2 linked regions of the Homo sapiens genome follow. The protein of the gene in region 1 purifies or fractionates together with the protein of each later gene. This does not show direct contact. Each region holds a gene or a part of one and is shown in the gene's direction. Other genes may lie near its edges.

Evidence for each region.
Region 2: the proteins of MTUS1 (region 1) and TTC5 purify together in Homo sapiens (affinity purification with mass spectrometry; one large-scale study listed by BioGRID and IntAct). This does not show direct contact.

Annotation. Positions count from the first base shown.
Region 1 is NC_000008.11:17,654,525-17,658,345, reverse strand, and holds part of MTUS1 (microtubule-associated tumor suppressor 1), read left to right. Parts: intron 1-2,280; coding exon 2,281-2,483; intron 2,484-3,679; coding exon 3,680-3,785; intron 3,786-3,821. UniProt on the Homo sapiens protein: Cooperates with AGTR2 to inhibit ERK2 activation and cell proliferation. May be required for AGTR2 cell surface expression. Together with PTPN6, induces UBE2V2 expression upon angiotensin-II stimulation.
Region 2 is NC_000014.9:20,288,895-20,292,715, reverse strand, and holds part of TTC5 (tetratricopeptide repeat protein 5), read left to right. Parts: intron 1-588; coding exon 589-733; intron 734-2,969; coding exon 2,970-3,089; 3' UTR 3,090-3,821. UniProt on the Homo sapiens protein: Cofactor involved in the regulation of various cellular mechanisms such as actin regulation, autophagy, chromatin regulation and DNA repair.

The DNA of each region.
Region 1 (3,821 bases):
GATTTTCAATTATGTGTATCAGATTACTTTGCCCTTTTAAAATATATTAACTGGGAGGCCGAGGCAGGCGCATCACGAGGTCAGGAGTTAGAGAACAGCCTGACCAACATGGTAAAACCATGTGTCTACTAAAATACAAAAATTAGCTGGTCGTGGTGGCATGTGCCGTAATCCCAGCTACTGAGGAGGCTGAGGCAGGAGAATCGCTTGAACCTGGGAGTTGGAGGTTGCAGTGAGCCAAGATTGTGTCATTGCACTTCAGCCTGGGCAATACAGCAAGACTCTGTGTGTGTGTGTGTGTGTGTGTGTGTGTGTGTGTGTCTATATATATAGTGTATATATGTGTATATATGTATTATATATGTATATGTATATGCATGTATATATGCATACATATATGTACATATATACACATGTACACATAGATATATACATATATGCATGCATACATATGTATGCATATATACGTGCACATATGTACCTATGTATACATATATAAATTTTTTTAACCTTTCATTTTATATTGCTTTTTTTTTTTTTTTTTTTGAGATAGGGTCTTGCTCTGTTGCCCAACAGTTGCAGCCTCAATCTCCTGAGCTCAAGTGATCCTCCCACCTCAGCCTCCTCAGTAGCAGGGACTACAGGCCCACACCATCATGCCTGGATAATTTTTTTTTTTTTTTTTTAATTTTAAGAGATGGGTTTCCCTATGTTGTCCAGGCTGGTCATGAACTCCTAGGTGCAAATGATTCTCCTGCATCAGCTTCTTTTTTTTTTTGAGACGGAGTCTCTCTCTGTCGCCCAGGCTGGAGTGCAGTGGCGGGATCTCGGCTCACTGCAAGCTCCGCCTCCCGGGTTCACGCCATTCTCCTGCCTCAGCCTCCCAAGTAGCTGGGACTACAGGCGCCCGTCACTACGCCCGGCTAATTTTTTGTATTTTTAGTAGAGACGGGGTTTCACCGTTTTAGCCGGGATGGTCTCGATCTCCTGACCTCGTGATCCGCCCGCCTCGGCCTCCCAAAGTGCTGGGATTACAGGCGTGAGCCACCGCGCCCGGTCTCAGCTTCTTAAAATACTTGAATTATAGCACAAACCACCGTGCCTGGCCTATGTGGGTGCTTTTAAGATGTGTTTTTTTTTCCCTAAGATATTTGTGCTCTGGTGATTTGCGTTTAATAGAGGCTAATATTTTATTTTTATTAGTTTTGAAATAACAAATTATAATCAACTCAAATTAACTACAAGTTTAAGGTCCACTTGTTTCTTTTTTTTTTTTTTTTTTTTTTTGAGACAGAATCTCACTCTGTCGCCCAGGCTGGAGTGCAGTGGCGCAATCTCGGCTCACTGGAAGCTCCGCCTCCTGGGTTCACGCCATTCTCCTGCCTCAACTTCCCGAGTAGCTGGGACTACAGGCGCCCACCACCACACCCGGCTAATTTTTTGTATTTTTAGTAGAGACAGGGTTTCACCGTGGTCTCGATCTCCTGACCTCATGATCCACCTGCCTCGGCCTCCCAAAGTGCTGGGATTACAGGCGTGAGCCACCGCGCCCGGCCGGTCCACTTGTTTCTTATCCCTCGTCTTTCCTGCTCTTGTGTGAGCTTCTACCACACTGGCTGGCTGGGAGAGGGAGGAGTCGCTTGTCCTAAGAAATGTCTCTGCCTGGCCAAGGCTCTTTTCTTGACCACTGCATTGACTGGTCACCACATGAGAGGGGATCTTCTCTTAGAAACCTGGGTCTTCTGAAGTACTTCTCTTACTGCTTGGGAGTCAGTTTTTTGAATGTGGGGTGGGGGGGGGTTTTGTTTGTTTGTTTTTGAGATGGAGTCTCAGTCTGTCACCCCGGCTATAGTGCAGTGGCGTGATCTTGGCTCACTACAACCTCCGCCTCCCGGGTTCAAGCAATTCTCCTGCCTCACCCTCCCGAGTAGCTGGGATTACAGGCACCTGCTACCATGCCCGGCTAATTTTTGTATTTTTAAGATAGACAGGGTTTTACCATGTTGACCAGGCCGGTCTTGAACTCCTGACCTCAGGTGATTCCCCCACCTCAGCCTCCCAAAGTGCTGGGATTACAGGTGTGAGCCACTGCGCCCTGCCCTCGTGTTCCTTTTTACAGTTCACTTCCATACTGTTATATTTGAAGACATGGTCACTAGAGACCCAAGACATCATGGGTGTATGCTTCAGGTGTCATCACAGCTGTGTGTGACTGTAATGAATATAGGACATTTCACAAATAAAATGACCTCTTCCCTCTTCTTTCTCCTCTGTTTTCAGTCACTGCTTCAACCACCTGTGAGAAATTAGAAAAAGCCAGGAATGAGTTACAAACAGTGTATGAAGCATTCGTCCAGCAGCACCAGGCTGAAAAAACAGAACGAGAGAATCGGCTTAAAGAGTTTTACACCAGGGAGTATGAAAAGCTTCGGGACACTTACATTGAAGAAGCAGAGAAGTACAAAATGCAATTGCAAGAGCAGGTCTGTGCTTTTGCAGCCAGAGCTTGTCTGAGGCCTCTGCTGCTTACTTGAATCCTGGTTGCTCTTCACATCTTGATGAGCTTCTCTTTTTTAGTCTAATAGGTATAAAAAGCATGTTGTTGTTGTTTATTTAAGACAGAGTCCCACTCTGTCTCCCAGGCTGGAGGCTGGAGTACAGTGGCTTGATCTTGGCTCACTGCAGCCTCTGCCTCCCGGGTTCAAGTGATTCTCCTTCCTCAACCTCCTGAGTAGCTGGGACTATAGGCACCCATCACCATGCCCAGCTAATTTTTGTATTTTTAGTAGAGACGGGGTTTCACCATGTTGGCCAGGCTGGTCTCAAACTCCCAACCTCAGGTGATCCGCCTGCCTTGGAAACAGTATCTTTTTAATTGAATAGTTTTCTTATGACCAAAGGAATGTATTATGTTAAGTGAAAGAAGGGAAGAAAAGGAGGAGGAAAAGATAAAATTGAAAAAACAACCCTTTCTTTCTACCCAGAAATAATCCCTTGTAAACATCCTGGTGGTGTGTTGCCAAACTATTGTTTTGCATTTCTTTCTTTTTTTTTTTTTTAGTGGCATCTGTTTAAATATCCCATTTTTTTTTTCACTGAATAAAATATCAAACCTTTTTAATTTTGTAGCTCCCTTTTTAACTCAGTTTTTCATTTAGTAAATATCTACAGAGTGCCTACTCCAGGCCAGGCACATGCTAGGGCCTGAGTGGTCAAGTGACAGGCGCAGAGCATGTGGCCCTGTCACTGTGAAACATATCCTCGTTCCTGGTCATTCCTTGTGACTGATGCAGCCATTTCCATCTGTCACCCTGGAGAGCCTCTGTGTCTGTGTTCCTGAGGGTAGGGAAGGAGACAGAGGAGAGTTGAGCGGTGAATCCCAGTTGCGTTGCTCTTCATGCATTCTTTGTGTGTGCACATGTGGGGACAGAGTCTCGCGACATTGCCCAGGCTGGACTTGAACTGCTGGGCTCCAAGTGATCCTCCACCTCTGCCTCCCAGAGTGCTGAGGTTACAAGTGTGAACCACTGCCCTGACCTTTGTATGTGTTGAGGAGCCTTTAAACTAGAGCCCACGCTTACCTGTGAAGCTGTGACGTCTCCTAATGTGGTTGCTTTGCGTATTCAACTTAGGACATTTGGTTTTACTGTTAAACCACGGTTTTGTTTGTTGCTTACAGTTTGACAACTTAAATGCTGCGCATGAAACCTCTAAGTTGGAAATTGAAGCTAGCCACTCAGAGAAACTTGAATTGCTAAAGAAGGCCTATGAAGCCTCCCTTTCAGGCAAGGATGCTTTTTTTCCTCTTTAAACAGAATAAA
Region 2 (3,821 bases), on another chromosome or scaffold:
GCTATTCTAGCACCCATCACACTGTGCTGTAAGTGATGACTTCATTGTCTGACTCCTGCTAGACTATAGGTCATTCATAGCTGGATTGGTATCTTATTGCTAAACACAATGCTTGGCACATATGTAATATTCAGTGAAAGTTTGTGGAGTTAAACTACACAGACAGTGATGGTTAGAGGCTTTGGTTAAGAGTATGATAGTTAAATTGATAGACCAGGAATAATGTTACAACTGTAACATGTTGGTCTAGTTCATCATTAATATTTGTTGAATGGCTTCAGTGTGCTTTGTCCTAAGTTCTTAGCAAAGTGACTGATGAGTTTCAGAAAAATGAAGACTCAGATATATAAAGTGGAAGATGGTACCTCTCATAGGTTTTCTGAGTAACTGAGAAAAAGCATTTGTTTATTTTGTTAGTATTTTATTTTTAAAGTTTAATTAAGTTAAATTTTATATTTTATTTTAATTACCTGTCACTGACTTTAAGTCCAGTATTTTGCTAGTATTTTTAAACCACTGTTTCTGCTCTTCTTTCCTACCCACATACCTTTTTGTTTTCCTCTCTCCTAATCTGTCTTTACTTGGTAGTACATTTGGCCTGGTAGATTCAGATGGACCTTGCTATGCAGTGATGGTGTACAATATAGTGCAGAGCTGGGGAGTGCTCATTGGAGACTCTGTAGCCATTCCTGAGCCCAACCTGCGGCTTCACCGAATTCAGCACAAAGGAAAGGTGAGCAATGGCTAGGATTCTCTTACAACTCGTAGGCTCTAAAAGTAGAACCAAGCTTATCTTTTTATAAAAGATATAGAAATAATTATATGTAAGTATGTGTGTAGGCTATGTGTATATATATTTGTGTGTATATGTTTTATTTATATATATATATGTATTTTTTTACTAAAAAGGTAAACTGGTAAGCAGAAAAATAAAAAAATGCAGTGAAATATTATCACTCAGGTATTACTGCCTTTTAACTGTTACTGTTAACAGTTTGGTGTATATACCTGAAGTCTTTTCTTTTCACAAATATATACACATATATCTATATTTTAAATCATGAGTGGGATATTATATGCAAATGTTTGTGAATGTTTCCTATGTTTTTACATATTTCACCACATTGAGTAGACACGGGGTGATGAAGATGGTAATGATAGTTAACATTTATTTAACACTTAATTGAGTGCTAGACACTGTGCTAAGAGTTTTTATTACCTGCCTTGCCCCATTCAATTCTTAAAAAAACCTTATGAATGTAGATATTTAACTACTGTTTAACCATTTAGATCAGAGGTTGGCAAAGCCCATTGACCAAATCTGGCTCACTGCTTGTGTTTATTAATAATGGTTTCTAGGCTGGGCATGGTGGCTCATGCGTAAAATCCCAGCACTTTGGAAGGCCAAGGTGGGAGGATCACTTGAGCCCAGGAGTTTAAGACCAGCCTGGGCTATATAGTGAGACCCCGTCTCTACAAAAAAATGTTAAAAAACTTAGCCAGGTATGGTAGCACATGCCTGTAGTCCCAGCTACTAAGGAGGCTGAAGTGAGAGAACCACTTTATCTCAGGAGTTTGAGGCTGCAGTAAGCCATTATTGTCCCATTGCACGCCAGCCCGGGTGATAGAGAAAGTCTGCCTCAAAAAAAAAAGAAAAACAAGAGTGTGGTTTCTGTGTTGTTAAGTGAAAAAAATGGACAGAAGCGTAATATTTTGTGATATGTGAAAATTACAGGAAATTCAGATTTCAGTGTCCACAAATAAAGCTTTATTGGAACACAGCCACACTCATTTGCTTACTATTGTCTGTGGCTGTTTTTGCACTATAGTGTCAGAGGTGACTTGTTCTGTAACAGAGACCATATGACCTACAAAGCCTAAAATATTTACTATCTGTCCCTTTGCAGAAATACTTTGATGACCTCCGATCTAAATTAGTACTTTTATAATAGAAAAAAAATTAGAAACACAGTGAGGATTTTTGTATCTTTGCTTGTATCTATGATTAGTTCCTTAAATGAATTTCTAATGTAGACTCCTGGGTCCAAAGGGTATGCAGAATTCTGAGGCTTTTGATACATATTGCCAAATAATTCTTTGGAAAATTGTACTAGTTAGTTGTCACTACCAACAGTGGATGTAAATAAGTGTTTCTCTGTAGTTTTTTTCTCAACTCTGGTTGGAAACCTTTGAAAAGTTATTTTCTAATTTTACATGGAAAATATAGCATGAATATTAATTTATATTTCTTGTATAAATTGCCATTTTTTGTGTCACTTGTTGATATTTCTGTGAAGACTTAAAAAAAATTGGTTTATGAGAACTTTTAAATTTACTTTACTTGGACTTAAAAGAGCCTGCCTCTCATTGCCATATTTTTTGGATGAAGACTATTTAATATGTTTTACAACTTAAAATACACTTAAACTGATACAGTGAGCTGATACCTTTTTTGTTATTAGGAAAACGGCTACATTCTGTTTCATGTTCTATTTCCTCCTCTTGATATAAAAGAGAAGTAACTTTAATTTGTATTTGGTGGATTAAATTAGGACCTTATAAACATTTGGACTGAGATTTTCTCAGGATTCCCACTGGCTCTGGCCGGCTGCTATGTGTATCTAGTTAATTATCAGGAAACACCGTGGGAAAAGGCAGATTCTATGAGAGTTGGTTGCATTCTTTTGTTAGGCAATGCCAGGAACCTGCCTTTTTTGGATCAAAGAGCTGTCTCATTCTTGTAGTGGCACTACATGACCTTACATGCTCCATGTTTTCCTTCTGAAGATTGAAAACTTTGGGAAATTTTCGTCCCCTGTGTTAGCTCAGTTTTGTCTGATGTGAGATGGAAGTAGAGGGGGTATACAACAGGGGAGGTGGTGCAGAAAGTTGCAAGTGGTGTATCCCCATGCTGGAGCTTTTTCCATCTTGGAATCTGTAGTGAACCTTTGTCTGTCTGTCTTTTCTAGGACTATTCCTTTTCCAGTGTTCGAGTGGAGACGCCCCTCCTGCTAGTGGTGAATGGGAAGCCTCAGGGATCCAGCAGCCAGGCTGTTGCCACAGTGGCATCGCGACCACAGTGTGAATGACCTTTGACTTGCATGCTCAACAGGGAGTGGAGGAGAGGAGACAAGGCTCTGGACAGCCGGTCCAGCCACATCCAGTGATTCAGCAGGGATGGGAGGAATGTTTTAAATGAAGACTTTCTCTTTCCCTGCCTGTATTACACTTCGTATCTCTTCTCTCTCCTCTGTCCTCATCATGTTCCAGCTCTCTACAGGGCCACATACTCTTCTGGCATATCTCTCCTGTCTCTTCCACTGCTCTCTATGTTTTAAGCAAAGAGCATGGAATTGGTAGAAGTCTTGGGATCTTGCCATGGGACAGAGTCCCCAAGGTTCCTGTTGTTGCCTCCTTCCTAAGCCTCATATGTATATATCAGTTCAGTATTTATTGCTAAAGGAGGGGGCTTAATTTTGTAATGGCTTTTATTTTTAGCAATTTTTATTTTTATTTTTGAACTTTAGGTCCTTCCTCTTCTTTGGGGCTGGAACAGAATTAAATTTGTTTGGAAAAAAAAAAAAACACCACGTAGTTTGGCCTGCTTTATTCTCCCTAGGCCTGTATTCTTTGTTTTAGGATCACTTCAATTTATTGGAGTAATACCCCCATTTTTTTCTTTATACAAAGCAGTTTATTTCTCTCCCAGTTAAAAGAATTCCGACAATAGACAGCCCCAGGCAGGAATGGCAACTCCACAAAGTTGCTAGAGACCAGCTTTCTTCCATTTTCCCATTCTGTCATTCCCTAGGGGTGGTCTT